Linked DNA regions of Homo sapiens: regions 2, 3, 4 and 5 are each linked to region 1. Evidence: fine-mapped expression QTL. A gene starts in region 1. Each other region holds a variant in brackets. All regions are shown on one strand. Distances are between the middles of the regions. Region 1 holds the start of PSMA3-AS1 (PSMA3 antisense RNA 1). Region 2 overlaps ARID4A (AT-rich interaction domain 4A). Region 3 overlaps ARID4A (AT-rich interaction domain 4A). Region 4 overlaps PSMA3 (proteasome 20S subunit alpha 3). Region 5 overlaps KIAA0586.

Region 1 (6,545 bases):
ATCACCAGTTGTTGTATAAAATCCACTTTTTCTCGCACATCACAATCTGACCAAGAAATGGTTTGTTGTTGCAAAAAATAAGGGATAAGGACACTTCAAAACAATGACTTTTTTTTTCGGTCAGTTCATGAGGCACCCACTTATCGAGCTTTTTCACTTTTTAATTTGCTTCAAATGCTGAAGGACTGTAGAATGGTCCACATTGAGTTCTTCGGCAACATCTCAAGTAGCCTTAAGAGGATCAGCTTTGCTGATTGCTCTTAACCGGTAGTTATCAACTTCTGGCGACCAGCCACTACGCTCCTGATTTTCAAGACTTTCCTTCCCTTTGCAAAATTTCTTGAAACTGCCAGGCACAGCGGCTCAAGCCTGTAATCCCAGCACTTTGGGAGGCCAAGGCGGGCGGATCACGAGGTCAGGAGTTCGAGACCAGCCTGGGCCAAGATGGTGAAACTCCATCTCTACTAAAAATACAAAAATTAGCTGAGCATGGTGGTGCGTGCCTGTAATCCCAGCTACTGGGGAGGCTGAGGCAGAATGGCTTGAACCCAGGAGGCAGAGGTTGCAGTGAGCCAAGATCATGCCACTGCACTCTAGCCTGAAAGAGCAAGATTCCATCTCAAACAACAACAACAAAAAAACTTCTTGAATCACCACTGCACTGTAAGTTAACAGTTCCTGAACCATATGCATTGCTGATATGGTGTCTCTGTTGTTTTACAACCCATTTTTAACTCAAAAACGAAAACTGCTCGAATTTGCTTTTTTGTCTAACATCATTTTCATTGTCTAAAATACACATGAAGGCTGGGCACGTGGCTCATGCCCGTAATCCCACCACTTTACGAGGCCGAGGCAGGCAGATCATGAGGTCAGGAGATCGAGACCACCATGGCTAACATGGTGAAGCCCCTTGGCTCTATTAAAAATACAAAAAATTAGCTGGTGTGGTGGCACGCGCCTGTAGTCCCAGCTACTCGGGAGGCTGAGGCAGAAGAATTGCTTGAACCTGGGAGGCAGAGGTTGTAGTGAGCCGAGATGGTGCCACTGACTTCAGCCTGGCGACAGAGCGTGACTCTGTCTCAAAAATAAAATAAAATAAACATGAAATAAACAGAGAGTAATAAGTCATTACCAAAAGAACAAAGCGAGAAATGCCCATTAAAATGATGTATAACATAACCACATTTATTTAACAACGTAGTCCAACATCAAATGGCAAATTCCAATAATGCAAAAACCACGATTACTTTTGCAACGACCTTCTTAGACACAATATTTTGCAAAACATGTACAAGGATATTCACTGACATATTACTGCCATTATAGAAAAATAAACACGTTACATAAATTATGATATATTTATCCCACAAAACACTATGAAGACATAAAAGATGCTTTACGATAAGATATTTCCAATATTCCCAATGTTTTCTATAAAGAATAGACGGTAATGAACAACACTAGAATATTTGGTAAAACAAAACCAACAAAAAAGACAAAGCCTTTTGTATAATATATAACTATAGTGTAAACCGTAACTACCTTTTGGAGGAGGGAAGACATTTTTGTATTCTTCTTTGGGCTTTTTAATAATTTCCAAATGTCCATGCATTATTTGGATTCAATAATAACAGTTTAAACTTTGATCGTAGAATTATGGATGCTTACCCCCTAGAAAATTCAGTAATATATTGTTTTATAAGGTCTTTTAAAAAACTGCTTCACTCCTACGAGATTGCGCCACTGCACTCCAGCCTCGATGACAGAGAGAGACTCTGTCTCCAAAAAAAAAAAAAAAAAAAAAAAAAAAGCCTCACTCCTAAACACTCCCATTTACAAGATCTTTTCTATATAAGAACTTTTTAAATAGGCGGGTGGGGGGGAGGAAATCACAAAAATACGCATAATGTTTTATAACAAAAACATGAGGTATATCAAAGTCCAGAAATGAGAACCACGTAAATGGGTAAACAAGTCCATAAGGATGTCCTAATTTTGGGATTTCATTCTAAAATATTACACTAGAAAGCTAATTATACAGACTCATTTGAATCTGACCAAACAAAACATCTTTTAACTACCCTTCCTCCCATTCTGGTATTTCTTTACTAATCCATAGAAAGTTTTTCCAGGTAGTCCCCCGCAATTCTAAGGATTTTTAGACTTTATGACTCACCTCAGTAATCACTGAGATGTTCTGTTTTCTTCAGCACAACTGCCAAAAAACCCAGTAATTGTTAAGTCACACAATCATTTTCTAGTTATGGGCGCCACCAATATAGCAGTAGGGTTTAAAACAGAGGTATTGAGGGTAACTATTAGGATCTATCCAGTGTGACTAGGTCACTCACTAGAAATGCCAACATGCATTTCACGTTTTTATGAATACTTTTGAGCAAAATTACTGTTACGAATAAAAAACTGATTCTGCTCGGCTGTTTTCTTACTGAGAAAATTTAGTCCACGTGGATTACTGACGATATGTCACATTTTAAAAATTACTCCATTCTATAAAACTAGTCAATTTTATACTCCAATTCCGCTATTTAAAAATGTGTGTTTCGTTTAACAGAATATAAGATGTTAACAGAAAAAGATCAACGTCTATCTTATCGGGGACGTCCTTTTGTCTAAGATGTTTTCAGTCCCTGCAAAACCACTGTTTGCTTTCAAAAAGTAGCATAAGCCTCGTGCAGAGTGACAGACCCTTGTCTAAGGTCACAGAAGAAGCGTCTGCGCTGGCAAGTAAATTCCTCAGCATCCAGAAAGCCAGCGCTTTCTCCAGTTTCCTCATAGCTTTATCCCGTGAGGAGCACGCGGAAACCTCTACCCATGCAGGATGTTTCTAAGAACCACTTCTTCCCTGTCTTAACTAAGAAGGCTCCCACAGCTGGTGCCAATCAGGTGGAGAACATGGCAAGTCCCCGAAATGCACTTCCAAAGACAGGAAAGATTGCAGTGGGACAGAACCCAGAAAATCTCTCACATTCTCGAAAACCCGAAAGAGAACCTCCAAGAAAGACGTTTGCCTCTCCTCCACCTCTTTATCTCGGCGGGAGAGGAAGCCTCGCCCCCATTCATCCCGCCCCTTCTCCCCACCCCGCCGCAGGGAGAAGTTTACCATGGCTGCCTGCGGCCCCTTCACTTCCGGTGCCGGTGCCGCTAGGGCTGCGCCATCCCCCCAGTCAATCGGACAACCATAGCCTCCAACTGACCTTTCTGACAGCTCTGAGACTCCTCCGGCCACGACTAGGTGCTGTCCTGGAGGAAACGGTGGAGGACGGCCGCACAAAAACCAATCTACCTGATGAAAACTCCGTTCCCTTCTCGCCAGAAACATAAAATGCGATGGAGCTACGGCCACCGCTGCCGAGACAAAATGGCGCCGACAAGCTGGTTTAGCGCAAGCGCCTTGGACAGACCCTGCCCCGCCCCCGTGCAAGCCCCTGGCTGCAATTCTGGGTTCCGTTTCCATGGGACACTCCGCCGCCAATCCTCGTGTCGAACTGCTCTTCCTGACCCCTCAATTCACCAATCAGTGCCCAGTCAAGCACATCCGGAGTCGTCTCTACCAATCATTTCTCAGGACTTGCTTACTCAATAACCAACTCTCCAATAAAGTTGGTTTTCGGAAAAAGCCAATCATAAGTGGAAGATGTCCTACCTGCTGTTTTTCTCACCAATCCATGAAGTTTCACAGCTACATCCAATGAGGACGGCAGGTAGCGAGGTCCTATCCGAAGCTCTTCGGCGTCATGAGCAGCCAATAGGAGTTCGTGTAGAAGCGAGTCTGCTCAACAGCTTGTTATTTGGTGGATTGTGGCAGTAAATCGGGGCGAGTGGGGAACCCGGCGCAGGAACTGCAGCCGCGGCTGGGAGTGGTGCTGCCCGGACGGGGGCCCACGGAGGTCAGAGGGGAGGAGGACTCTGGAGCTGACAGCGCGCACTTCACCCGCAGTTGGTAGGTGGGGAGAGGGGAATCCGGGGATACTGAATGGACGAAGTGGCAGTAGCAGCAGCTGCTGCTGCCCGAGGTCCCGGTGCAGTTGGAAGCTTTGGAGGTGGGGAGAGGGATGCTAGGCAAGTGGCACGGCGAGCGCAAGGGAAGGGGCCAGCCATTGACCAGCGGCAGCAACTGCAGGAACCGCCGCCGCAGTTGCAGCCGCCTCCTCGTCCGCTTCCTCGGGTTCCCGGGAAAATGGCTGTGGGGCTGGCCGCGCCGCTAAGTTTGCTTCCGCGCGGTGAAGAGCGGGCTGCTTGGGGGAGCCGTCCCCCAACTCCGCGGCGCGTCCACCTCTGCGGAGTCCGTGGCAGGACTCGAGGGGCTACGAGCTGATACCTCTCTGGGCTGTACAAAAAGTTGAGGCGGGCGCTGGGAGGAGGCAGCGGCTGCTGCGGTGCGGCTCCCCTCCCCTCCCACACCCTGTCCGGGCCACCTCCCCTCCTCCTCCCCTCCGCCCCCCGCCCCCTCCCCCACGCGGGTCCCCCGGGGCTCTGGCGGCTCCCGGCTGAAGGCCGCGGCCCCTGCCCCTTTGGGTGAAGGAGCGCTTCTCCTTTCTGACATGGTGCAGAGCGAAGGAAGGAGAGCAATGGCGCCGTGACACTCCGCTGCCGCCACCGCGGGCCCGGGGCGGGCCGAGGGGGCCGAGCGGCGGAGGCGGGGCGCGGGCCGAAGTCGGGGTATCCGGGGGACCGCGGAGCGGAGGCTCGGCGGTCGTCTCCGCGGGGGACCTGGGGAAGCCCGAAGGGAGCTCTGGCCTTTTCCGGAGCTATCTGTCCTGGAGCTCCGAGTTGAGCATTCCGGGTCAAAGTGGCCAGCGAGGCGGGGGCGCGGTGGGCCGCTGGCGAGCTCCGGGGCGGAACGGGCTGCCCTTTGGCGCTCGTGGGGTTCTCGCTGCCCCCTCAGCTCCTGCGTCCTGGCTGCCCTCGTAAGGGGTCTTGTCCCTTGGCTGGTGAGGATTCTGCCCCTCCCCGCTGGCGTTTGTTTACTTTCTTTCCCTTGGTCGCTCCCCGCAGTTGACTGATTATGTCTGTGCCTGTCTTTCCCCCTCCCCATAGTTCTAGCGACTGCGAAGATAGCTCGCTGAGCTGGAACCCCACAGATCACCAACAAAAATGAAGGTAAGTGGAGTCAACTCTGCCCCGATCCTCGCGCCCTGAACACTGCCAATCCTAAGGCTAGTGCCGTGGAATGTCATTTGTTTTGCTACTCAAAATTGATGTTCCTACTGATCAGCAGTTTCGGCATAGGAGGATGTGTTGAATGGGTGAAAAATGATCTGTGTGTCTAAATGCGGAGTTTAGGCCCTCTCTGTAGCAGTACTTTGGAAAGGCTGGTGCAGCCTTTCAATTGTTGTCCATTCGGATAGTATTTTTAAACACTTCCTGTGTTGGCAGCAACCTTTGCAGAAGTAAAGCTTTTGTCCTGCTTTGGTTCTTTGGGGGATTTTTTGTAAATTTTTTTTCTTCCCGTGTGCCAATGCGATTTTCTAAAAGAAAGAATACGTGGATTAAGTAATGAAGGTATCATTTCTTCTGTGTGTAAAATGAACTTATGTGGCTAAAATATTTGAAGTTGAAGTATAATAATAGTTTTAGTTAAATCTTTCCAATAAGTATTTTAAAACATATACTAAAAAGATACATATTCTACTGAGGATGACTGCAAATATCAGTATGTGGATGGTTAAAGGGAAAGGATCTCATATAGCGTTCTTGAATGCTGTGGCCATTGAATGTTTCAGGTCAGATTTTTGTTTGCCAAAAGCATTCCTATTCAATTTGTATTTTTTGTAAATGCACTTACTTTAAAAGGTACCCAATTCCTGTCTTATTTACTGTTTCAGCATATTAAGCTCTGAAATATAGCATTTTCCCAAACTTTCTCGTGGTTTTCTATTTTCTCGAAGTAAATGACATATTTAACCTTCTTTAATATTACTTGGGAAAACTTATTAGAAAACAAAAAATCATTTTCTACTTCAAAACGTATCTCCAAAGTGTACACTGTTAACTTTGCACTTAACAATGTTAAGTTGAACTTGTATGGATACACTTTAACTTCCGGAAAAAAAAAAAAAAGGTAAAATGACAGATTGAGATAGCAATCATCCTGTTACTGTAAAAATTAAAATGAGTGGTAGAGTGACATTTCTTACATCTTTCTATGTATCATTCTGGTCGTGTCCATTTGCTGAAAGTAGATGTTTCTTAGTAACGCTTATTTTTTTATACTAAGAAGATTAGTGTGGTAAACTAGGTATACCTACAAGTCTGGAGCCATCAGTTCATATCTGCATTCATCGGCTGAATTCAGACTTAAAACCTTTCAAGTGCAGCTTTTAGCAAATGAATTTTCCAAATGATACTTTCCTTATGAAAAGATGTTACCTTTATGTGGCTATGTCAATAAACAATTATGTATTGTTAGTGTTAATATTAGTAGCAATATTTCTTTTAATTTGAAAAATTTCAGGAAGCTATAAATGAATAACTTAGTTTTATGATATGTGTAATATGAAATATTTTTTCTGTTTTTTTCT
Region 2 (6,545 bases), 49 kb after region 1:
GGGCGGATCACTTGAGGTCAGGAGTTTGAGACTAGCCTGGCCAAATGGTGAGACCCCCTTCTCTATTAAAAATACAAAAAATTAGCCAGGTGTAGTGGCACACTCCTGTAGTCCCAGCTACTCAGGAGGCTGAGTCAGCAGAATTGCTTGAACCCAGGAGGCAGAGGCTGCAGTGAGCCGAGGTCGTGCCATTACACTCCAGCCTAGGCAGCAAGAGCAAAACTCCATCTCAAAAAAAAAAAAGACAAAAATCTGAGCTCTTCTTTTAGAACAGAGGAGAGTAATACTCTAAGTTATGATCATTTATATGGAGGAAACATATCAGTGTTTTGTTTTTCTCTAGTAGTGCTAAACTTTAAGAATTTTAAAAGAAGCTAAATCAGTAATTATGTATCTAGTTTCCTTCCCTAAGAATTACTTCTGGAATTATTTTGTTATCTTATTTTTAGGTGTTGCAAAGTCAAGTACAGGGGCCATACTAGAAAGGCAAAAGAGAAAACCAGGTTATTGTGAGATGAGGGGGTGATGAGGTCTGGGGTAAAATAGAATGTATATGACTCACTTAAATGTATTTAAATATCTTTAAAACATTGTGCCATCTAAACAGAAATCCTTTGCCACTGTGACTTTGCAATCCCTGGTTTATATTCATCTGGCAATAACAAAAACTATGTTTATATGAAAATTATTTTTATATATAAATATATGATATAATGAACATGTGTCATTATTGTGCTCATCTGCCAGTATATTTGTGTGGGCCACATAGTATTTAAATGGGCTTTAAAAAAAATATATCAGGTGAGGTGAAAACGTAACACTCCCATTTTATTCCTGAATGTTTTCCTCTTGGCTAATCTTAGTCCTTACAGTGATACTGAAAAGTAGAGTTAGAGTGGTAAATGGAGTGAAGGGTAGACATTGTATATCTTCATAAATATGACTTAAAATCTGTCATTGTAGGATATTGAGAAAATTCAGATTTTTCAGCTTTATTAAAATTTGATGACTTTACATTGGGTTCACAAAAATAAAAGAAGACATGTATCTTTTCCAGTTCACTGTGCCATACATTTATATATTTTATCTTTACAGCCTGAGGAAGAACTTGATCCTGAAGAGAGGGACAACTTCCTCCAGCAGCTTTATAAGTTTATGGAAGACAGAGGTATTTTCATGCTCATTATTTTAAAGTAGTCATTTCTTTTTCATGTTTACATTCTAGGTATATGCATTGTTTTTGTTAGTATTGCAGATAAACAGTTTTGGATTTTATTTATTTATTTATTTTGAGGCAGGTTCTTGCTTTGATGCCCAGGCTGGAGTGCAGTGATTTGCTCCTGGCTTACTGCAGCCTTGACCTCCTGGGCTCAAGTGATCCTCCTGCCTCAGCCTCTCGAGTAGCTGGGACTACAGGCACGTGCCACCATACCCAGCTAATTTTTTATTTTTCTATTTTTTGTAGAGACGGGTTTTGCCATATTGCCGAGGCTGGTCTCAAACTCCTGGCCTCAAGTGATCCTCTTACCTCTGCCTCCCAAAGTGCTGAGATTACAGCTGTGAACCATCATGACTGTCTAGTTTTGGATTTTAAATAAATCCTAGAATCAGTTACACCTGACAGTAGTAAAATATTTGGAATTAAACTGTTCATACCTATTTTACATAGAAACAAGTGAGAAAATATTTTGATACAATTTAGTTTTCCCTGTCACTTACAAAGCTAAAGAATATTCTGATATTTCAGAAATAGAAAGTGACCAGTTATGTTAATCTGCATACCCACTAATTACTAATGCTATATTTGTGGCAAATAAACTAGATAAACTAGCCTGATCCTTGTTCTCAGCAAATTAAACATAATAGGAGACCAATCGTTATCTGAAAAAGATGAGATTTCTAATATAGGTAGAATAATAGAACAATTATAAACCATCATACTCCTTGCCATTTGTTAGTCCTAGAAAATCTTAAGATAAATTGGTCCTAAACATTCTGTGTGGCCTTCAGAAATCATCCTTCAGATTACTGCTAACAGTCTTAACATTTGTGTCAAAGTAGTGAAAGTGGAACCAGGGTATAAATCTTATCTTTTCTGTTGTGTTTGTTTATGCCTAAACTTTTTTTTTTTTTTTTTTTTTTTTTTTTTGTGACAGAGTCTTACTCTGTCACTCAAGCTGGAGTGCGGTGGCGTGAACATGGCTCCCTCCAGCCTCCACTTCCTGGGCTTAAGCAGTCCTCCCACCTCAGGCTCCCAAGTACCTGGGACCACAGGTGCACACCACCACACTCAGCTAATGTTTTCCTTTTAATTTTTGTAGAGACAGGATATCACCATGTTGCCCAGGCTGGTCTCAAACTCCTGAGCCCAAGTGATCTTCCTGCCTTAGCCTCCCAAAGTGCTGGGGTTACAGGTGTGAGCCACTGCACCCAGCCCTATGCCCAAGCGTCTTGAACCAGCAACATTGTTGGCCACACCATGCAGTGTTTACTTTAGTTTTACTCAATTCATTGGCAGTTAAAGAGGTAGCTTTATTAGTATAACACCTAAAATCTGAAGATCCCCACAAAGCTATATAAATAAGAGAGAATTATTATATATATTATTATATATAAAACATATAAAAAAGAATTATTATATATAAAACAACACAAGAGAATTATCTTGTGTTGTTTTACATTGTTTAAGGCTCTTTAAATATGTGCCTCTAATTAATGAAATTGGGGAAATTAGAAATTGACCGCTTTGTTTTCAAATTAGTATTTCTCATTTGAATAAACATTTTATTTCTACCTACTTACATTGAAAAGGTACTCCAATCAACAAACCACCTGTTTTGGGCTATAAAGATCTCAATCTCTTCAAACTCTTCAGACTGGTTTATCATCAGGGTGGATGTGACAATGTAAGTATAACATTGCTTTTTGAAACATGTATTGATGTGGTAAAAAGTTAAGTTATCTTATATTGCATTATTATATGCACATTGGATAATAAATACATTTTCTTAATGAACATAGAATATTAGGATAAAGATCTTTTCCTGGCCAGGCACGGTGGCTCACGCCTGTAATCCCAGCATTTTGGGAGATTGAGGCGGGTGGATTGCTTAAGCTCAGGAATTCAAGACTAGCCTGGGCAACATGGCGAAACCCCATCTCTACAGAAAATACAAAAATTAGCCAGGCATGGTGT[C/T]GCATGCCTGTGGTCCCAACTACTCGGGAAGCTGAGGTGGGAGGATCACTTGAGCCCAGGAGGTCGAGGCTGCAGTGAGCCCTGATTGCACCACTGCTCTCCAGCCTGGGCGACAGAGTGAGACCCTGTCTCAAAAAAAAAAAAAAAAAAAAAAAAAAAAAAAAAAAAAAAAAAAAAAGATTAATTCCCTTTGCAAATGTTAACATAAAAACTTAATTTTCCAGATTGATAGTGGTGCTGTATGGAAGCAAATTTATATGGACCTTGGCATTCCTATTTTGAATTCAGCTGCTTCCTACAATGTAAAAACTGCTTATAGAAAGTAAGTAGTATAGTTTATTCATCAAAGAATATATATTTATAGGAAATATTTTCCATTTACTTTGTTAACAAGAATACATCAATCTAGAAACATTAAAGTTAGAGAAAGTATATAAAAAGGTTTAGGTTGACAGATACTTGTGATTGAAAGTTATTTCAGCGCATCTAATCTGCTTTACTCCATTTCTTATGTTGTCCTGATTTCCTTTCCAAAATCAGGATGCAGGTAGTGTCTGCGATTATGATACATATTACAGAGCTACATCTTTTGGGGTGAACAGCCTTCATATCAAAACTTATGATAGTTATGTTTAGCTATCACAAGCTCAGACGTCTCAGGACGGCATTTTATGATCAGTTTTTCTGTTTATGATTCTATCTAAAACACCAAGAAAATAGTAACACAGAAAAGAGTAACAAAAATTTTTTTAAATTACTGGGCTTTACTTTTTAAAAATGTGTTTAATAACATGAATTCAAGTTAGATGCAAAGACTGTAAGATTTCTTAAATGAAATATTGTTTGTTTAGGTATCTCTATGGTTTTGAGGAGTACTGCCGTTCGGCAAATATTCAGTTCAGAACTGTTCATCACCATGAACCAAAAGTAAAAGAGGAAAAAAAAGACTTAGAAGAATCAATGGAAGAGGCTCTCAAATTAGATCAAGAAATGCCTTTAACAGAAGTGAAGAGTGAACCTGAGGAAAATATCGATTCAAACAGTGAAAGTGAAAGAGAAGAGATAGAATTAAAATCTCCGAGGGTGAGTTCTTAATACTAGTTTTATCTGGTTTAAGTATTATTTAAAATTTTTTATTATAGCCATTTTCATATATACACAAAAGTACTACAGTGAACCTAGTTTATTTTCCAGTATTTAATGCTGCTTAGCTAGCTACTTTTTTCGAAATATATTGTATATTATTTCCTCTACCTGAAAACCCTTCCTTCTGTTTTCTGTTTATATTCGATCAAGTCATTCTTGTCTGGGATGAATCCCAGATATTCCTTTTCCAGTCTTCTGCTAAAGTATCACCTCATTGAAGGCTGTCTTGGTCACCTTATCTGAAATTGTAACCTGCCTCCTCTCTTTGGAACTCTCAGTCCCTCTGATGTTGTTCTTTCTGTAATTTACTTATTTATTCTGTTTATTGTGATTATCTATTTTGCCCCACTCTACACTAGAATCACACTCCACGAGGTCAGGGATTAGTGTTTATTTCGTTTATTGACAGATGCCACGCATTTAGAATAGTGCCTGGCACATAATAAAGGCTTATTAAATAGATGTTGAATAAATGAATCACCTCTTTATAGTGCCTGTGCCCTAAACTAGATGATATCTTGTCTTTGTAACTTTATAGCACACTGTGTAGCTCTAGTGATGCGTACATGTATGCTGGTTGTATCTTCCAACTTTGCTCCTTCTTTCCTTTAATATATAAGGTCTATTTAGGAATTGTCATCTAGCATTTGGATCAGTGTCCAGTGATGTTACATAGTAGGATTTATCAAATTTTAGAAAGAGAAAGGAATTTACCACACTATCAAAGAAGTTTAATTACTATGTCTTATTTTTTGGTGGAATCATATTTAATGAAAGAGAATGTGAAATTGCTTTGTCTTATAGTTCAGAAACCAGTTTTCAAAACTTCCTTCATGTAGTAAATGGAATCTTCTAGTGAATGTCATGAAATTTCCAAATTGTTTTTTTTTAATTTTTTTTAAAATTGTGGTAAGTACATATAACATAAAATTTGCCACCTTAACTCTTTTTAAGTGTACACTTCATTGGCATTAAGTACATTCTCACCGTTGCATAAGTGTCACCACCGTCCAGTTCCAGAATATTTTTACCTTGCAAACCTGAAATTCTGTACCCATTAAACAGTAACTCCTCATTCCTCCCCAACCCTTAGCAATCAAAGTTTTACTTTCTGTACCTATGAATTTGATATTCTAGGTACTTTTATATAAGTGAAATCATACAGTGTTTGTCCTTTTTTACTGGCTTATTCACTCACCATAATGTCTGTAAGACATTATGTTGTAGCACATATCAGAATTTCCTTCCTTTTTAAAGGTGAATAATATTTTATTGTATGTATTGTGGACATACTTTCTTTTCATTACCTAAAAACCTTCCTCATCCTACATAAAATATCTGCAGTGTGCTGTCTAGTATGGATGAACCATAAATCTACCTTCTCCAAGATTTTCTCCCAGTTTTTTACTATTTTAAAAAGTGCTGCCGGGCGCGGTGGCTCATGCCTGTAATCCCAGCACTTTGGGAGGCCAAGGCAGGTGGATCTCGAGATCAGGAGATCGAGACCAGCCTCGCCAATATGGTGAAACCCCATCTCTACTAAAAATACAAAAAAAAAAAAAAGTGCTATAATACATTTGCTTGTAAAAATATCCTCATCACTTATCCACATATATAAGCCAGGCTTCTAAAAATGGCATTTCTCACCTGTAGTCCCAGCTACTCAGGACGCTGAGGCAGGAGAAGTGCTTGAACCCAGGAGGCAGAGGTTGCAGCAAGCTGAGATCGCACCACTGCACTCTAGCCTGGTCGATAGAGCGAGACTCCATCTCAAAAAAATGAATAAATAAATAAAAACAGTATTTCTGGGACAAAGGTATACAGACCCAAATTTTATAGCAGTTGTTTTCATTCATTTACCTATAGATATTTTAAAAGCACCTGCTAGGCCGGGCACGGTGGCTCACGCCTGTAATCTCAGCACTTTGGTAGGCCGAGGCGGGCGGATCACGAGGTCAAGAGATCAAGACCATCCTGGCCAACGTGGTGAAACCCTGTCTCTACTAAAAATACAAAAATTAGCTGGGCATGGTGGTGCGCGCCTGTAGTCCCAGCTACTCAGGAGGCTGAGAATCGCTTGAACCTGGGAGGTAGAGGTTGCAGTGAGCTGAGATCACACCACTGCTCTCCAGCCTGGCAACAGAGCGAGACTCTGTCTTAAAAAAAAAAAAAAAAAAAAAAAAAGCACCTGCCACCTGCTATG
Region 3 (6,545 bases), 20 kb after region 1:
AATCTTAAATTATTTCTTTTTGTTCACTTAAGGTTGGGAGGGTTCCTATATAAAACTGTAAAATAGTTGTTTGTATCATAATCCCCTTTTGAGCAATCTCTTTTTTTAAAAAAAAATTTCTATCCATGATAAGGTATATTTAAGTGAAATGAATTTTTCCTTCCAAAAATCTGATTTTATTTCAAAGTGATTATTGAAATTTTTGAATTGTTGAAATTCAAAAATTGCTGAAATATTTTGTTTAAAATGTTGAAATTGTTGAAATTTTTCATCAGAACATTTTGGTTTAGGGCTGCCATTGATTAATGATAAAACATTATAGAAAATATTTTGTTATATAAATTTTGGAGTGTTGGTCTTACATTCACATTTTCCTTTTTCATACCTCCATTTAAATGTGTGTGTGTGTCTAGTATCGTCATCTTTGGTATTGTAGGCATTAAGAAAAGTTGAAAACCTTTCAGGTTTTATTCTTTTTGAAATCTTATACTTACAGATACTAATACTAACAAGAATTATATTGTTTGGTTTGTGATAATTTAATGATTTAAAAACTTTAAGAGAACAGTGGTTAATTTTTTAGACTTGACACTATATGAATCATAGTTTTTATATCAAATATTTAGCACCCTATTACTCAAGTGCAGATCAGTGATGTAATCATTGGAGGATGTTGTGTTTTAACCTGTCATTGTGCCTGCAGCTAGTCATTAATTTCTGGATCATTGACTGTGTATAGCACAGCTGCTTTTTTAGAATCATGGTTCTTTGAGTATGTGCTTCGGGAGTTTTTAATTTTTTCCACATTGTCTCCTGCATGTAAAAGAATCTAAGCTAGGTATCTGTAGTCTAAGAGGGAGAACTGATTGAAGTAAATAAATATTTAACATGTTGAAAGCTTTTATATAATTTTCTTTCAAAAAACTTATTCATTAAAGGTAAGCGTAGGATTTGAAGGCAAAGTGTTTGCTAATAAAACAACCTTTTCAGAAAATAATTCAGGATTATAATTTCATAGGTAACCAATTAAAAAATTCTAAGATATCAAATGAATGTAATGTAGAATTTCTTTTTGTTAACACTGACTTATTCTGTTAGAATGGAAAAAAGTATCTAGAATTGTGAAAATTAGTACTAAATCTTGATAATTGTTTTTGGGTACATATGTATGCTTTCTTGTTAAGTGAATATGGATGTTAAGTGTCTGAAGTAAAGATTATATCTTATTTTATTCATAACCTGGGGCAATGAGGTACCTTCTGAGAGCATTTTCTTTTTAATAAACTATAAATGTTGGATGCTAAAATCAGAATACAGTCTCAAAAGTTAAACCTATACAATTATCAAAATAATATATTGTTAGTGATTAGGAGAATATTAGGGATAAATTGTAAAATTCCTTACCCCATTTCCTTGAAATGTTTAAATATAGTCAAGTAGTACGATTTTGTTTGTTTGTTTGTTTTAGACGAAGTTTTGCTCTTGTTGTCCAGGCTGGAGTGCAATGGCGCAATCTCTGCTCACTGCAACCTCTGCCTGCCGGGTTCAAGAGATTCTCCTGCCTCAGCCTCCCGAGTAGCTGAGATTACAGGCGTGTGCCACCATGCCTGGCTAATTTTGTATTTTTAGTGGAGACAGGGTTTCTCCATGTTGGTCAGGCAGGTCTCGAACTCCCGACCTCAGGTGGTCCGCCCGCCTCGGCCTCCCAAAGTGCTGAGATTACAGGCGGGAGTCACCGCGCCCGGCCAAGTAGTATGATTTTTTAAAATATGTACTAAAGGCCAGGCGCGGTGCTCACGCCTGTAATCCCAGCACTTTGGGAGGCTGAGGCAGGTGAATCACAAGGTCGGGAGATGGAGACCATCCTGGCTAACATGGTGAAACCCCATCTCTACTAAAAATACAAAAATATTAGCCGGGCGTGGTGACGTGTGCCTGTAGTCCCAGCTACTGGGGAGGCTGAGGCGGGAGAATGGCGTGAACCCGGGAGGCGGAGCTTGCAGTGAGCTGAGATCGCGCCACTGCACTCCAGCCTGGGGGACAGAGTGAGACTCAGTCTCAAAAAAAAAAAAAAAAGTAGTAAAAGCAAAAAATTTGAGAAAGCATCTATGTAATTATGATTTTTTTTAAAGTTTCTTTCTTTCTTTCTTCTTTTTTATTTTTTTTTTTTGGGACGGAGTCTTGCTCTGTCGTAGAGGCTGGAGTGCAGTGGTGCAATCTCGGCTCACTGCAAGCTCCGCCTCCTGGGTTCACGCCATTCTCCCGCCTCAGCCTCCCGAGTAGCTGGGACTACAGGCGCCCGCCACCACGTCTGGCTAATTTTTTTTGTATTTTTAGTAGAGACGGGGTTTCACCGTGTTAGCCAGGATGGTCTCGATTTCCTGACCTGACCTCGTGATCCGCCCACCTCGCCTCCCAAAGTGCTGGGATTACAGACGTGAGCCACCGCGCCTGGCCTAAAGTTTCTTTTTAAAAAAACCTTTATATTTGTCTTTTTTTTTTTTTTTTTTTTTTTTGAGACAGAATCTTGGTTTTGCTGTCACCCAGTGGCACAATCATGGCTCACTAACCATGGTTGAGCCTTGGTTTTTCGCGGCTCAAGCAATCGTTCCACCATGGCCTCTCCAGTAGCTGGGACCACAGGCATGAGCCACCACGCCTGCCCTACAAACTTTTATCTTTCTGTTTCCTTATTTCAACCTTTATTTCTAAACTTCTCAGCTGGGTACAGTGGTTGATGCCTGTAATCCGAGCACTTTCGGAGGCTTAGGCGGGAGGATAATTTGAGGCCAGGAGTTTGAGACCAACCTGGGTAAAATAGCAAAATCCTGTCTTTATTAAAAAAAAAAAAAGTTTTTTTAAACAGACTACTTACATCCTTTTCTAACAAAAGAAAGAACTTGTATCTTATGACTTTAGAATTTGGCAGCTGGTACATGTGTAGTAGGTTATCATGCAAATAAATAGAAGCAGTAGAATAATTCAATAGCAATACCAGGAGTCAGTTTCTGGAAGTTAGGGGTACTCTAATATTAAACTTTTGTGGAAAAATCCATAATACTTTTTTTAATCAGGTTTTTGTTCATTCTTCTAGGATTGCAGTTAATTTAATATTTATGCTTTGACTAGGTTGCTAATGAGTTAAGAAGGTGGTTCTGTAGTGATAGAAATCAAAAAAGCAGATGGAAATACTTAAGCAGTCGTGGGCAGCCATTTAACCTGTGTTTTTGGTATCTGTAGAATGAAAAATATGGCATGGTATGCTCATTGTAAAGGTTTTGAAAAATGACTAAAATAATGGTTCTTACAAATATTAAGCTCTAATTAATAGCAATAATAGCATTCTGTGCTTTTAAGTTTTTATTTCATTAGTGTGCATAAATTCTCTGTTATCTTTTGCTTATTATAGTGTTTGATGATGGTGATGAGCGAACATTGAGACGTACCTCACTTTGTCTGAAAGGAGAGAGACATTTTGCAGAGAGTGAGGTAGGGTGACACGGATGGACGATTTGGATTGAACTACAGGTACTGATCTAGAGGTAAAACGTAATTTAATTAATCTATTTCTTATACAGACACTTGACCAGCTTCCATTAACAAATCCAGAGCATTTTGGAACTCCAGTAATTGCAAAGAAGACGAACAGAGGAAGGAGATCTTCTCTTCCTGTGTGAGTTTTTTCATATATGGTATCATTTTAATTACAATTATTATAACCTTAAACAAGGGATTTTGTTAGGATGGCTAAATTCATTTGGGTAAGCTTTCCATAGCATATTGTATCCTTATGTTAGACATTTTACCCTGAGTGGACCTTGTTCTTAATTATTCCCAATATTTGCCCAGGAATGATAACAACTCTTACTTCTAATAGATTATTTTTGTTTTAAGTTACTTTGCCGAAGTTTTTTTTGTTTTGTTTTGTTTTTGATTTTGTTTTTTGAGACGGAGTCTCGCTCTGTTGCCCAGGCTGGAGTGCAGTGGTGCAATCTCGGCTCACTGCAACCTCCGCCTCCTGGGTTCAAGCAATTCTCCTGCTTCAGCCTCCTGAGAAGCTGGGACTACAGGCATGTGCCACCACACCCAG[C/T]TAATTTTTTTTTTTTTTGTATTTTTAGTAGAGATGGGGTTTCACCATATTGGCCAGGCTGGTCTCGAACTCCTGACCTCGTGATCCACCTGCTTCAGTCTCCCAAAGTGCTAGGATTACAGGCGTGAGCCACCACACCCAGCCTGAGCCACTGCGCCAGGCCCAAAGTTTTTAATTGATATGATGATTTTTCTATTTTAAGTGAGTATATGTTTTTTATCTTTTACTTCAAAAACATTTCAAACTTAAAGATTGCAAGAATAATACACGAATATCTGTGTATGAATGTCTATATACTCTTTTTTTTTTTTTTTTTTTTTTTTTTTTTTTTTTTTTTTGGTGAGATGGAGTTTGTCTGTGCCACCAAGGCTGGAGTGCAGTGGCATGATCTTGGCTCACTGCAACTTTTGCCTCCCAGGTTCGGTGATTCTCCTGCCTCAGCCTCCTGAGTAGTTGGGATTACAGACACACCATCACGCCTGGCTAGTTTTTGTATTCTTAATAGAGATGAGGTTTCGCTTTGTTGGCCAAATGGGTTTCGAACTCCTGACGTCAAGTGATTTGCCCGCCTTGGCCTCTCAAAGTGCTGACTGGGATTATAGATATGAGCCACTGCACCTGGCCTAATGTCTATATACTCTTTATCTAGATTTACCAGTTCTTAACATTTTTCACACATTTGCTTTACGATTCCCTCTCTATATATATACTAATTTTTTTCTTTTCTTTTTTTTTTTTTTTTTTGAGACGGAGTATCACTCTGTCGCCAGGCTGGAGTGCAGTGGTGCAATCTCAGCTTATTGCAGCCTCTGCCTCCCAGGTTCAAACGATTCTCCTGCCTCAGCCTCCCGAGTAGTCAGAACTACAGGCGCGTGCCACCACGCCCAGCTAATTTTTCTATTTTTAGTAGAGACAGGGTTTCACCATGTTGGCCAGGATGATCTCGATCTCTTGACCTCATGATCCACCTGCCTCAGCCTCCCAAAGTGTTGGGATTACAGGCGTGAGCCACCACACCCGGCCTATACTAATTATTTTTATATTTTGTAATAATTTTATTTTTCTGAACTATTTGAGAGGAAGTGGCAAGCATCATGATCCTTTATCATTAAATATTTAGGAACAAGGAGATGTTCTTACATAACCAAAGTATGAATACCAAATTTAGAAAATTTAACGCTGATAGACTACTATCATAATATATGGTTAATATTTCAAACTTTGTCAGTTGTTCCAATAATAGCCTTTATAGCGTCCCCCAGTTCCCCTGATTACAGGATCCAATTCAGGATCATGCATTGCATATAGTTTATATGGTTCTTGAGTCTCCTTTAATCTAAAAAAATTCTGTAGCCTTTTTTCTTCCATGACATTGACTTTTTTTTTTTTTTTTTTTTTCCCCTGAGACGGAGTCTCGCTCTGTCACCCAGGCTGGAGTGCAGTGGCTGGATCTCGGCTCACTGCAAGCTCCACCTCCTGGGTTCTTGCCATTCTCCTGCCTCAGCCTCCCGAGTAGCTGGGACTACAGTCGTCCACCACGACGCCTGGCTAATTTTTTGTATTTTTAGTAGAGACGGGATTTCACTGTGTTAGCCAGGATGGTCTCGATCTCCTGACCTCGTGATCTGCCCGCCTCGGCCTCCCAAAGTGTTGGGATTACAGGCATGAGCCACCACGCCCAGCCGATGACATTGACGTTTTTGAAGAATACAAGACAATAGTCTTGTAACCTGTTCCCTAATATGTTGGATTGTTTTCTCATTGTTAGATTCAGGTTATATATTATACTCCATAAGTGATGTTGTGTCCTGAAGGAAAGCACAGCAAGAAGTATTATCAGTTTGTCCCATATCTGGTGATACTAACTTTGATTAAGGTGGTGCCTGCCAAATTTCTAAACTTCAGAATTACTATAGTTACCGTTTTTCCCCTTTGTAAAATCTGTGTGGAGATACTTTGAGACTATTTAAATATTCTAGTCTCTGTCAAACTTTGATTCACAAATTTTATCATGTACTAATAATTCTTGCCTGAATCAGTTAGTACTATTATGATAGCAAAATGCTGATTTTTCTAATTTTTCATTCTTGCTACATTTTTTGGTTATCGCTTAGCTATAATGAAATTCTTTTCCTAACGCTATGGATTCTAATTTTACTTAATGGGTTACAATTCAGGTTGTTCCAGATTTAGCCAAGGGAGCCTGGGAGCCTTTCCAGGATGGCTTCTGTGTTCTTTTGATATGGCCTCACCATTTCTTGAGCACTTTTTCACCTTCTGGCATGACAAGGTATCCTAGGCTCATGTTAATTTTTTCCTGCGCCAACCCTGGAATTGGCCATTTCTACAAGGGTCCCTCATTTATTTTAGTGGGAATTAATATTTAGAAACCAAGATCCTGGTATTAGATATGTACTCACTGCTGCTGGGGAGTATATAATGAGTATTTTTAAAG
Region 4 (6,438 bases), 42 kb before region 1:
TTGTTTAATCTTGACAACCCAGTGAAGGTTATATCAATGTCATTTTCTTTTTTTTTTTTTTTTGGTTTGAGACAGAGTCTGGCTCTGTCACCCAGGCCGGAGTGCAGTGGCGCCATCTCAGCTTATTGCAGCCTCTGCCTCCTGGGTTCAAGCGATTCTCCTACCTCAGCCTCCCAAGTAGCTGGGACTACAGGTGCCCACTACCATGCCCAGCTAATTTTTATATTTTTAGTAAAGGCAGGGTTTCACCATGTTGGCCAGGCTGGTCTCGAACTCCTGACCTCAAGTGATCCATCTGCCCGCCTCAGCCTCCCAAAGTGCTGGGATTATAGGCGTGAGCCACTGCGCCCGGCCTAATGCCATTTTCACAGGTGAAAAAACAGATGCACAGCAAGTAAAGAAAAGCTGGGATTCAAACTTGGGTCTGCATGTTACTCAAGAGCCCTTTCTAAATGAAAAGACACCTTATATGACCCACATCGTTCAGCTGATAGCTTTCTTATATCTAAATGAGATTTAATGTTACACACAAACACAAAAAGTACTGGTAAAGTATAACCAGTAAACCATAAAGCTAATTTTTTTCTTCTTCAAAGATTATTTTATCTCAACAATATGTTTCTCCTGAACAGATTTTTTTATTTTGCTGCAAATGACAGGATTTTATTTTATTTTTTGAGATGGAGTCTCACTCTGTCATCCAGGAAGGAGTGCAATGGCGCGATCTCAGCTCACTGCAACCTCTGCCTCCCGGGTTCAAGCAATTCTCCTGCCTCAGACTCTCAAGTAGCTGGGATTACAGACATACGCCGCCACACCCAGCTAATTTTTGTATTTTTAGTAGAGACGGGGTTTCACCATGTTGGTCAGGCTGGTCTCGGACTCCTGAACTCCAGTGATCTACCCGCCTTGGCCTCCCAAAGTGCTGGGATTATAGGCGTGAGCCAGCGTGCCCAGCCTAGCATTTTATTCTTTTTAAAGGATGAATAGTATTCCATTGTGTATATATACATTTTCTTTTTACTGTTTTTTTGTTGTTGTTGTTGTACAGATTTTTCTCGTCACCCAGGTACTAAGCCTAGGACCCAATAGTTATTTTTTCTGATCCTCTTCCTCCTCCCACCCTCCACCCTCAAGTAGGCCCCATTGTCTGTTGTTCCTGTCTTTGTATCCATGAATTCTCATCATTTAGCTTCCACTTATAAGAGAGAACATGTGGTTTTTGGTTTTCTCTTCTTGTATTAGTTTGCTAAGAATAATGCTGAACAGATTTATTATTGCCAGTGAAACTGATATGTTTTGATGAAACTTGCTACATTGTAACCTAGCTAGTAGGAGGTGATCTTGTATTCTTTTATGTACTAGCAAAAGTTAATATTTTGAAAAAAATTATGCATGCATATATATATGTATGTACACACACACAGAGGTCTTGCTCTGTTGCCCAGGCTTGAGTGCAGTGGCATGATCATAGCTCACTGCAGCCTTGCGCTCCTGGGCTCAAGTGATTCTTCTGCCTCAGCCTCCCAAATAGCTGTGACTACAAGTGTGCCATCACACCTGGCTAATTTTTTAGTTTTTTTAAGAGATATGATCTTGCTGTGTTGCTCAGGCTGGTCTTGAACTCCTGGGCTCAAGCGATCCTCCCGCCTCAGCTTCTTGAGTTGCTGAGATTACAGGCATGAGCCAATGTGCCCTGTCAACATTAGACATTGAAGAGGGCTGGAGAAAATTAAGACTTAATATCCTCCCTCCTTCCACAGTTGTCATCTTCAAGTGATTTGAGAATTATATGACTTTACAGTAAGCTTTCTCTAAAGCAACAGAAGATTCTTTAAGTGATGTAACTTACTGGCATGGGTTACCTTGGGGAAGCTATTCTAAACACGCGTTTCCTTGTCTGCAAAACAAGAGTGATAATAGTACTTGGCACATACAGTTGTTGTGAGGTTAAAAATTATTATGCAAAATGCTTAACATGTAATGAGTGCTCAGTATCTCTTAGTAATTATCATTATTACTATTACTGGGTAGCGTAGGAAAAAAAGGCTATTAAAGATTGTGATACCACTTTTAAATTCTGTAACTGTCCTGGGCTAGAGGGTTTCAAAAACTTGGTTGGTTTATGGTACCTTAAGTGTCTCAGTAGTTTTTCTCATGGCTTCCCTAGGCCGAAAATACCTAATGGTTTCATTTATTAAGTATTTAGATCCAAAGAACTTAGTGTTTACATCCTAAAAACTTAGTAGCCGTTTTTTTTTTTTAAATACACACATAGTGAAAAATATTTTTATTTAAAAATTAAAATGTTTTATTTTAAGCAACCAAAATTTCTAGTATATACACTGCACAACCTCCCAAATTTGGATGTGGCCACTGTCATTTCCTGTTCCACACTGATTTTTGCACAGTACTTACTTTTTTTCACAGCAACCACTAACAGCCAAGCTTCTCAAAGATGTGGTGGCATTGAAAGGAATGTAGTAAAACGATCTAATGTTCAAACGGAACTACTTGGACATTTTTCTCCAAACTTAGAATGTGCCACACTAGGCCAGGTGCAGTGGCTCACACCTGTAATCCCAGCACTTTCGGAGGCCAAGGCGGGCGGATCACCTGAGGTCGAAAGTTCAAGACCAGCCTGACCAACATGGAGAAACCCTGTCTCTACTAAAAACACAAAAATTAGCCGGGCGTGGTGGCGCATGCCTGTACTCCCAGCTACTCGGGAGGCTGAGGCAGGAGAATCCCTTGAACCTGGGAGGTGGAGGTTGC[G/A]GTGAGCCGCGATTGCACCACTGTGCTCTAGCCTGGGCAACAAGAGCAAAACTCCATCTCAAAAAAAAAGATATGCCACACTAACATGTGATTTCACTGCAGTGCCTGAGGACCTCTCGGCACATACATAGTAACTGCAATTCTGTTTTTGTTTTTGTTTTTGTTTTGAGACAAAGTCTCATTCTGTTGCTCAGGCTGGAGTGTAGTGGCGTGATCTCGGCTCACTGCAGCCTCCGCCTCCCGAGTTCAAGTGATTCTTGTGGCTCAGCCTTGGGAGTAGGTAGGATTATAGGTGCCCGCCACCAAACCTGACTAATTTTTGTATTTTTAGTAGGGGTTTCACCATGTTGTCCAGGCTGGTTTCAAACTCCTGACCTCAGGTGATCCCCCTGCCTCGGCCTCCCAAAGTGCTGGGATCACAGGCATGAGCCACCGTGCCCGGCCTAGTAACTGCAGTTCTAAGCCGCAAATCTTGAAAGAGGAATGGTTTATCATTGTAGTTTATTCAGCCAATAGGCTGAAAAAAGATTTGCGATTGTGCCTTTTAGAACAAAACAGTTACAGGTTGAGTATCTCTCGTCTAAAATGCTTGGGACCAGCAGTATATCGGATATTTTTCGATTTTGGAATATCTGCATTATATACTCATCAGCTGAGCATCCTTAATCTGAAAATTCAAAATCCAAAAAGCTCTACTGAGCATTTCCTTTTTTTTTTTTTTTTGAGATGGAGTCTCGCTCTGTTGCCCAGGATGGAGTGCAGTGGCGCGATCTCGGCTCACTGCAACTTCCGCCTCCCAGGTTCAAGCAATTCTCTGCCTCGGCCTCCCAAGTAACTGGGATTACAGGTGCCTGCAACCACGCCTGGCTAATTTTTGTATTTTTAGTAGAGACGGCATTTCACCATCTTGGCCAGGCTGGTCTTGAACTCGTGACCTTGTGATCCACCTGCCTCAGCCTCCCAAAGTGCTGGGATTACAGGTGTGAGCCACCAGGTCCGGCCTGAGCATTTCCTTTGAGTGTCATGTTGGCACTCAAAAAGTTTCAGATTCTGAAGCGTTTTAAATTTCAGATTTTTGGATTAGATATCCTCAACCTGTAATAACTTTAGAGAAAAGAACAAATTTGGGCCGGGCACGGCGGCTCACACCCATAATCCCAACATTTTGGGAGGCTGAGGCAGGCTGATCACCTGAGGTCAGGAGTTCAAGACCAGCCTGGCCAACATGACAAAACCAAACCCTGTCTCTACTAAAAATATAAAAATTAGCCAATCCCAGCTACTGGGGAGGCTGAGGCAGGAGAATCCCTTGAACCTGAGAGGCAAAGGTTGAAGTGAGCCCAGATGGTGCCATTGTGCTCCAGCCTAGGTGACACAGTGAGACTCTGTCTCAAAAAAAAAAAAAAAAAAAAATCTGACCAAGACCCATGGTTTTTATTCGTTATAATGAGGTAGTGGTAGTAAATCAGGGGAAGAGGATTTATGATAGAAGTAGTCCTGAATATTGGCCGGGCACGGTGGCTCACGCCTGTAATCCCAGCACTTTAGGAGGCTGAGGCAGGCAGATCACGAGGTCAGGAGATCAAGACCGTCCTGGCTGACATGGTGAAACCCCATCTCTACTAAAAATACAAAAAAATTAGCCGGGCGTGGTGGCAGGCGCCTGTAGTCCCAGCTACTCAGGAGGCTGAGGCAGGAGAATGGCATGAACCCAGGAGGCAGAGTGTGAAGTGAGCGGAGATCATGCCACTGTACTCCAGCCCTGGTGACAGAGCGAGACCCCGTATCAAAAAAAAAAAAGGAAATGTCCTGAATATGAACATTGGACAAAGCAATGAAGTTATACTTACTAAATTTCTAAATTATAATTTCATACTCAAGCATCAAAATGCCTTGTAGAGAGACCTTTAAGCCAAAAAAGTTTATTTTGAATGGTAATACTTGTTAAAAAAATGTTTAATAAGTCTTTATTAATTGCAGACTTTGATTTGTGATAGGAATGTGTTCCTCTAGTAAATTGGTGCTTTTTTTTCAGGCAGTAGCAGGTTTGTTGGCAGATGCTCGTTCTTTAGCAGACATAGCAAGAGAAGAAGCTTCCAACTTCAGATCTAACTTTGGCTACAACATTCCACTAAAAGTAAGTTGATAACATATTGAGGAACCTTTTGGACAGTAATAGAAGTTTATTAATAAGCTCTTCTGCTTCCCTCCATAGCATCTTGCAGACAGAGTGGCCATGTATGTGCATGCATATACACTCTACAGTGCTGTTAGACCTTTTGGCTGCAGGTAAGAAATTTTGTGAATTATTCAAAAGGCAGATCTGTACTATAGATATTTATTATGTTCCCCAGCATCTTAGCCTTTTACATACTTAAAAATAGAAACTCGTCGATAAGTATTAGGGCAATGATTAAATAAAACAGTGTACATAGAAACTACTTGAGGCTGGGTGCCATGGCTCAAGCCTGTAATCCCAGTACTTTGGGAGGTTGAGGTGGGAGGATCCCTCGCGCCCAGGAGTATGAGACCAGCCTGGCCAACGCAGTGAGAACCTATCTCTACAAAAAAAATTTAAAATTTAGCCAGGTGCAGTATCACATGCCTGTAGTCACAGCTACTTAGGAGCTGCTTGAGAGGATCATTTGAGCCCAGGAGTTGAAGGCTGGAATGAGCTGTGGCCATACCACTGTACTCTAGCTGGCGCAATAGAGACTCTGCCTCTTTAAAAAAAAAAAAAAAAAAAAAAAAAAGGTTTCAATAGTGAAAAGGACTATATAGATCTGAAGTGATTATAAAACAAGGAACTGATAACAATGACTTTAATCTGATTATAATAAGCTCTCGGTGTTAGTCCCTGATATTCTTAGGTAATTTTAAAAATTACGTCTCACAATTCCCATTAGGCACGGTTTCTCTTTCTGTTGAAGTGCTGATATTTTATTGTGGGGTAAAGTGGAGATTCAGCTGCATAAAGACCTGGAATAGGTATAAATATTCAAATTTGGCTTCACAGAGAAGACTTGTGACTAGATTTTTCTAAAATGAAAAGACATGTTTGGCTTATGACTTAAAACAGTCAAACATGTTTGGTCAAAATAATACATATACTAACATCTGAGTGCTCAGCTGTAGTCCTACCTTTGAGTTGTTTATCATCAGTCATATTTAATTACTAAGATATTAAAGAAAACTTGAGTTTTATTCTATTGGTAATATTACATTAGGGTTTTGTTTTTACTTTTTGAGACAGTTACTGTCACCTGAGCTGGAGTGCAGTGGTGCCATCATGGCTGACTGCAGCTTTGACCTGGCTCAAGCGATGCTCCTACCTCAGCCTCCCAAGTAGCTGGGACCACAGGCATGGGCCACCATGCCTGGCTAATTAACAAAATTTTTTTTTGTAGAGACGGGGTCTCACCATGCTGCCCAGGCTGACATTAGTCATTCTTAAGCTTCTCAGTTAAATTACATTATGAAACACTTTGTTTTCAGACCATGTAAAATACCTTTCAACTGAGCTCTGAGTTCATCAGTTAACTTCTCTACTCTTTTTAAGGGAGTAAGAATAGTAGAGATAACTTTTTTTCATAACTTTTTTTTTGTTTGTTTTGTTTTGTTTTGAGATGGAGTCTCGCTCTGTCGCCCAGGCTGGAATGCAGT
Region 5 (6,545 bases), 170 kb after region 1:
AAAAATTTTCATGTTTCTTAGGTGGATGATTTTTATATTTAAAGCTTTTCAAACTAATGCTTGAAACCTGTTATCTAGAATTTAAGGGCTGTTGAAAACAGAGGTTATTTTTTACTTAATCATTCTTGTTATAATACTTAAGCTAGCAAAAGGAGGCTTTAGAAAAATGAGATAAGTGTTTGATGACTGTTTTCATGGTGAGTTGAATAACTTTGTACACACAGGGGCTTTTGAAAGCAACCACAGTAATACAAGATGAAGATTATATGTTACAAGTCTATGGAAAGCCAGTTTATCAGGGCCATCGAAGCACTCTTAAAAAAGGACCATATCTCAGATTTAATTCTCCATCTCCTAAGTCCAGACCACAGAGACCAAAAGTAATAGAACGAGTTAAAGGTAAGGAATCTCATTTTTAATGTTTAATCTCATTTCTTAATAGTATCAGTTTAATATGTAAAGTTTCTTTTTGCTTTTTATTTATTGCTTATACGTGCCATTCAAGTTATATGATGCTTGGGGATGGAAAAATAATTCCTCTTAGGAGAGGTAGGAAGAAATAGACCAACATTTTAAAAAAGACACAAGATAGGAATAATTGGGAAGAAATGTAGGATTAAATGGCATCTTCAGATAAAGCATCATAAAATTTTTATTTAGGAGAAAATGATTTTTTTTTTAATTTTTTTTTTAGACAAGGTCTCACCCTATCCCCCAGGCTGGAATGCAGTGGCACAATCATGGTTCACTGCAGCCTCGACCTACTGGGCTCAAGTGATCCTCCCCTCTCAGCCTCCCAAGTAGCTGGGATGACAGGTGCACACTACCACGCCTGGCTAATTTTTTTGTATGTTTTATAGAGACAGGGTTTCACCACATTGCCCACAGTGGGTGATGATGAATCTTGAGCATCTAAATTATAATCTAGGAAAGTAGACATTTTCCTGAAGACCTAGGTGCATTATGAACAGAAAGATCAGCCATTTGCTGTTTATTATAAAAGTGTTGATGAGCACTTTTGCAGTTTGGTTTTCAAAGAGACTTAGGTAGAAAGGTGAAAACTTTTTTGTTGCTTTTGTGCACAACTGAAAACATCTTCATGTATCACTGTGTATTTTGAGTCACATCTACTGTTTCACTGGTACTGTGTATTTAAATACAACTTTTGGTTATATACTGAGTCTGTTGACTTTGGTTATGTATTATAGTTTCTCAGCTTCTGCTTAGCAATCAGTAAGCTACAGCTGACAATATGTGATAACTAGTAGATACAAACCCATTTTCCTCTCTTATCCTTTCTAGAAGTTGGAGCTATGGTGGTTACTTTGGTTCCCTTTGCTTTCTAAAGGTTATGCAATCATATACAGTGTCAGGTTATATAGAAATTTTACTAATTTAAAATAGAAAGCATATAGCTTATGGGTGATATTTATCCTAATGGATGGTATTTACCCTGAAGTTTTCTCTTATTTAGTGTAGTTTTGCTTTTTTTTTTTTTTTTTTTGAGACGGAGTCTTGCTCTGTCATCCAGGCTGGAGTGCAGTGGCACAGTCTTGGCTCACTGCAACCTCCACCTCCCGGGTTCAAACGATTCTCCTGCCTCAGCCTCCCGAGTAGCTGGGATTACAGGCATGCGCCACAATGCCCAGCTAATTTTTTTTTTGTATTTTTAGTAGAGACAGGGTTTTGCCACATTGGCCAGGCTCGTCTTGAACTCCTGACCTCAGGTGATCCACCCGCCTCAGCCTCCCAGAGAGCTGGGATTACAGGCGTGAGCCACTGTGCCCGGCCTAGTGTAGCTTTGCTATTAATTTATATGGGGGGTTTTGAAAGTCTTTGCAAAAAATAATTTGAGGCTTTAAAATGCTTTCAAATCCAAAAATAACTTTATTCAATAACGCTTTTAATGATCAGAAGTGATTAAGAGCCTGTATTAGTTCATTTTCACACTGCTATAAAAAACTACCTGAGACTGAGTAATCTATAAAGACAAGAAGGTGTAATTGACTCACAGCTCCACATCTCTGGGGAGGCCTCAGAAAACTTAGAGTCATGGCGAAGGGAAGCAAGGCATGTCTTATATGGCAGCAGGAGAGAGGGAGCAAAGAAAGCCATGCCCTTTTAAAGCATCAGATCTCATGAGAACTCATTCACTATCACAAGAACAAATTAGGGGAAACTGCCCCCATGATCCAGTCATCTCCCACCAGGTCTCTCCCGTGACGCATGGGGATCAATTTGAGATGAGATTTGGGTAGGGACACAGAGCCAAGCCATATCAGAACCTAAGGACTTATGCTTATCCTAGGGCCTCAGTACCTGCCACTTCCTCTGTCTGGAGAGCTCTTCGTTCAGACACTTGCATGGTTCTCTCTCTCAATTCTTCCGTCTCCGCTCTTAGATGATAGCTCCTTAGAGTGCTCTACCCTGACCATTCTATTCAAAGAATTATCTCCTGTTCCTCTCCATCTCCTCACTCTGCCATATTGTTCTTCATGGCACTTCACATTTCCTGTGTTATATTTTTATTTGTTTGTTTTATTATTTATTTGTCACTACTGGACTGTAAGCTCCATGAGTACAGTTGGTTTAGTCACCTCTGTATTCCTTGTGCCAGAAACAATGTTTAACACATATTAAATGCTGAACAAACATTTTAAATAAACACTTAAGAAAAATATTCATTCAATAGAATGACTATCAGAGAACAAGATGAAAGAATATAGACATGGTATTACAATTTTTCTTCCTGGGGTCATAAACAAAAAGAAACTATATTTAAAAGTCTGGATGTGTAGGTTGGGCACAGTGGCTCATGCCTGTAATCCCAGCACTTTGGGAGGCTGAGGCAAGAGGATTGCTTGAGACCAGCCTCAGCAACATAGCTAGATCCTGTCTCTACAATAAATTAAAAAAATTAGCAGGGCATGCCTGTAGTCCCAGCTACTTGGGAGGCTGAGGTGGGAGGATCACTTCAGCACTTGAGCTTAGGAATTCAAGGTTGCAGTGAGCTATGATAGTGCCACTGCACTCCAGCCTGGGTAACTGAGCAAGACCCTGTCTCTAAAAAAAAAAAAATTAGATACATTAAAAAATTAGATACATAGAAACACCCACATGTGAAGTGGAAGTGTAGGTGACGGTCTGAGACATCACCACCAACCTGGGCACTGGGGAGATGGCCAAGACTGACCCCAAGACCTT[G/A]CAGGACCTCACCTCGGTGGTGTAGACACCCCTGCAGCAGATGCAAGATAAATTTCAGACTATGACCAGATAATTGGGAGAATTGATGATATGAGTAGTCACATTGATGATCTGGAGAAGAACATCACAGACCCCATGACACAGGCTGGGCTGGAAGAACTGGAAGGTGAAAACAAGATACCTGCCACACAAAAGAGTTGAGGGTTGCTAATAATTTATATAATGGAATCTGGAACATCATTTTTCTGAGCCAAGAGAAGACTGAATGGCTTTTTTCAGCTAACTACTGTGTGTAGACAGGTTTTATATTATAAAGTGTGCATTCTTATCACATACTATATAGTTAGTTTATAAAGGTTTATCCCCCAGTTTCTTGAATGTGGTATCTTCACATCTTGGACCTTGGTCAGTTGTACTATTAATTATTAAAAACTAAAACTTTGGCAGTTCCTGCATTTAAAAAAAAAAAAGCACCCACATGTTAAAAGTAAAAATGTAATGTCAGGAAATTATTAAGAAAATATTTTAGCCTCTTCCTTTGCCCGCTTACTTTATTCTTTACTTTTTTGTGTGTGTGTTCCATAGACATTTATTCACTTCTCCAAAGAGACATAAAGTCAAATTTTTAATATTTTAAGATTTAGGATATAATGGCTATATGTGTATGTATACATCATAGGAACAGAAAAAAATGTACAGCAGTCCCCCCTTATTCATGGGGGATGTGTCCCAATACCCTCAATGGATGCCTGAAACTGTGGATAGTACCAAGCCCTAACATGTACTATGTTCTTTTAATCTGATAACTGAGATGGTAACTAAGTTATTAATGGGCAGGTAGTGTCTACAGTGTAGAGACCCCAGACAAAGGGATGATTCATGTCCTGGGCAGGATGGAGCAGGACGGCATGAGATTTTATCGCGCTACTCAGAACAGCGTACATTGTAAAACTTATGACAGCCGGGCATGGTGGCATGCGTCTGTGGTCTTGGCTACTCGGGAGGCTAGGGTGGGAGGATCACTTGAGCCTGGGAGGCAGAGGTTGCATTGAGCTAAGATCGCACCACTGCACTCCAGCCTGGGTAGAGTGAGACTCCATCTAAAAAAAATTAATGAATAATTTTTAAATACTTATGAATTGTTTATTTCTCAAACTTTCCATTAATATTTTCCAGCCAAGGTTGATCCTGGGTAATTGAGACAGGGAAAGAGAAACCACAGATAAGGAGAGACTACTGTATAATGATATTAATTAGTAAGGTTTAAGTAAGTATAGAATTTGATTGTCTGTACATAATTTAAAAAGATAAAGCTGGTTATTCAGAATTATGTTGTGTGTAAAGGTGTAATGAGAAAATGAAAATCATCAATTCCAAAAATGATCATTAACTTTTTCGTACCTATGGAAAAAAATTTAAAGAATTCAAACATTGTTGGAATATTCTTCAGAATCTTTATTTAACATTTTTTTCTAGTTATTATATCTATTTTGTCACAGTAGCTGTACAAGTTGTATGTCTATTCAGGGGCTGGCAACTGTGGCCTACACGTGAGCTGCCTGTTTTTATAAAGTTTCATTTGCCTCTAACTGTGTTCATTCATGTATATATTGTCCATGGCTTCTTTCATGACACAACAGCAGAACTGAGTCATTACAGCTGAGATCACGTGGCCTGCCAGACAAATATTTACTGTCTGGCCATTTAAGAAGTTTGCTACCTCTGGTCTATATATTACTTCTGTTTTGGGGCCTTGTAACCTTATATAGAATTAAGATTTTTCTGTGAAGAGCTGTTGTATTTCTAGATGTCTGGATAGTAGATATTCTAACAATATTTTAAAATATCTGCCATTGGTGATTATTATAGGCACTAAGGTAAAGTCAATAAGAACACAGACTGACTTCTATGCAACAAAACCTAAGAAGATGGATTCTAAAATGAAACATTCTGTTCCTGTGTTACCTCATGGCGATCAGCAATATTTGTTCAGCCCAAGTAGAGAAATGCCTACTTTTTCAGGTACATTGGAAGGTCATCTGATTCCTATGGCAATTCTTTTAGGTAAGAATCAACAAAATATGTGGGATGGATTTTATTTTATTTATTTATTTGTTTGTTTGTGTGTTTATTAGAGACGGGGTTTCACTGTGTGGCTCAGAGTGGTCTGGAACTCCTGGACTCAAGCAGTCCACCCACCTCAACCTCTCAAAGTGCTGGGATTACAGGCGTGAGGCACCGTGCCCAGCCATTGAATTTTAAATTCTTATCAGCAGTAGCAGAACTTACAAAATGGTACTAACATGATAGTCATCTACCTTTTCTTGTAAATGTTATTTGTTTTTGTGGGGAAGGCCTCACAATGTATTTTATGCTGTGTAATAGCAATCTCTGAAATGATGGGTTCCTGCTGTAGTTTCACCAATAGGAAAAATTCTTTTGGTATGTTATATTATTGTAGATGAAATGAAATTTTAAACAATATTTTGGCTGGGCACAGTGGCTCATGCCTTTAATCACAGTACTTTGGGAAGCCGAGATGGGAGGATTGCTTGAGACCAAGAGTTTGAGACCAGCCTGGGCAACATAGCAAGACCTTGTCTCAAAAAAAAAAATTAGCTGGGCTTGATGGCTAACACCTGTAGTCCTAGCTACTCTGGAGGCTGAAGCAGGAGAATCCCTTCAGTCCAGGAGTTTGAGGCTGCAGTGAGCAATGATTATGCCACTGTACTCCAGCCTGGACAACACAGCAAGACCCTGTCTCTTAAAAAAGAAAGTTTAAATATGTCATGGACATTCATAATAATTCAATAAGTTTGATTATCTTGTTAATATCATTATGTCTTTGGGGAAGTATTAAGGTACTTTTTTTTGTACTTTTGAACTAGGCTATCATAAGTGAAAGCTGTGTGGGTGTGTAATCTAAGCCAATAGTTGTTTATTTACTTATTTGCCTTCTCTCTGAGTCTTCATGTTAAAAATTGAACAGATCATTTTTGTCCTCACACCAGCTGTTCAAGTCTAATTAGCTCTTTTTTCCCTTTAGTGTCATTGCTGTTCTTTTGTTTTGATTAACAATTTAAGTATGAATATTTTTTAATGTAAGAGACTTTTTTATTTTTGATATTATGGGTTAATTTCATGTCAACATAATAGCTCTCTGTTTAAACATATCTCCTAGTAATAAAATAGCTCACACTTTTAAAGTTCTTACTGTGTGCCCGGTACAGTTCTGAGCACTTTACATATATTCTCTCATTTAATCCACCCTATAAAGCACATGGTAATATACAAATTGTATAGCTAAGAAAACTGAAGCACAAAAGGGTTACATAATTTGT

The links. PIP is the estimated chance that this variant, and not a neighbour inherited with it, causes the effect. A credible set is the group of variants that fine-mapping cannot tell apart.
Region 2: its variant is the best candidate, but not a certain one, in a credible set for the expression of PSMA3-AS1 in lung (TOPMed, PIP 0.74).
Region 3: its variant is the best candidate, but not a certain one, in a credible set for the expression of PSMA3-AS1 in whole blood (INTERVAL, PIP 0.53).
Region 4: its variant is the best candidate, but not a certain one, in a credible set for the expression of PSMA3-AS1 in blood mononuclear cells (TOPMed, PIP 0.59).
Region 5: its variant is the best candidate, but not a certain one, in a credible set for the expression of PSMA3-AS1 in subcutaneous fat (GTEx, PIP 0.55).

What each region holds. Positions count from the first base shown.
Region 1 is chr14:58,294,737-58,301,281 of GRCh38, forward strand. It overlaps PSMA3-AS1 (PSMA3 antisense RNA 1), which reads right to left and starts at 3,401. Exons shown (of 4, transcript NR_029435.1): 1 at 3,219-3,401. It overlaps ARID4A (AT-rich interaction domain 4A), which reads left to right and starts at 3,819. Exons shown (of 24, transcript NM_002892.4): 1 at 3,819-3,964; 2 at 5,062-5,124. The coding sequence starts at 5,119. RefSeq lists enhancers at 3,049-3,772, 3,069-3,488, 3,509-3,558, 3,669-3,758 and a silencer at 4,389-4,908.
Region 2 is chr14:58,343,600-58,350,144 of GRCh38, forward strand. It overlaps ARID4A (AT-rich interaction domain 4A), which reads left to right. Exons shown (of 24, transcript NM_002892.4): 12 at 1,096-1,168; 13 at 2,812-2,906; 14 at 3,421-3,518; 15 at 4,048-4,279. Among named protein-coding and RNA genes, the nearest start is that of ARID4A, 48 kb to the left of the region's middle. The variant C/T (reference allele first, on the strand shown) is at 3,197.
Region 3 is chr14:58,315,133-58,321,677 of GRCh38, forward strand. It overlaps ARID4A (AT-rich interaction domain 4A), which reads left to right. Exons shown (of 24, transcript NM_002892.4): 6 at 3,410-3,489; 7 at 3,579-3,673. Among named protein-coding and RNA genes, the nearest start is that of ARID4A, 20 kb to the left of the region's middle. The variant C/T (reference allele first, on the strand shown) is at 4,091.
Region 4 is chr14:58,252,935-58,259,372 of GRCh38, forward strand. PSMA3 (proteasome 20S subunit alpha 3) reads left to right here. Exons shown (of 11, transcript NM_002788.4): 4 at 4,811-4,912; 5 at 4,991-5,064. Among named protein-coding and RNA genes, the nearest start is that of PSMA3, 11 kb to the left of the region's middle. The variant G/A (reference allele first, on the strand shown) is at 2,776.
Region 5 is chr14:58,460,762-58,467,306 of GRCh38, forward strand. KIAA0586 reads left to right here. Exons shown (of 31, transcript NM_001329943.3): 14 at 225-399; 15 at 5,074-5,268. It also overlaps the pseudogene HSBP1P1. Among named protein-coding and RNA genes, the nearest start is that of KIAA0586, 36 kb to the left of the region's middle. The variant G/A (reference allele first, on the strand shown) is at 3,205.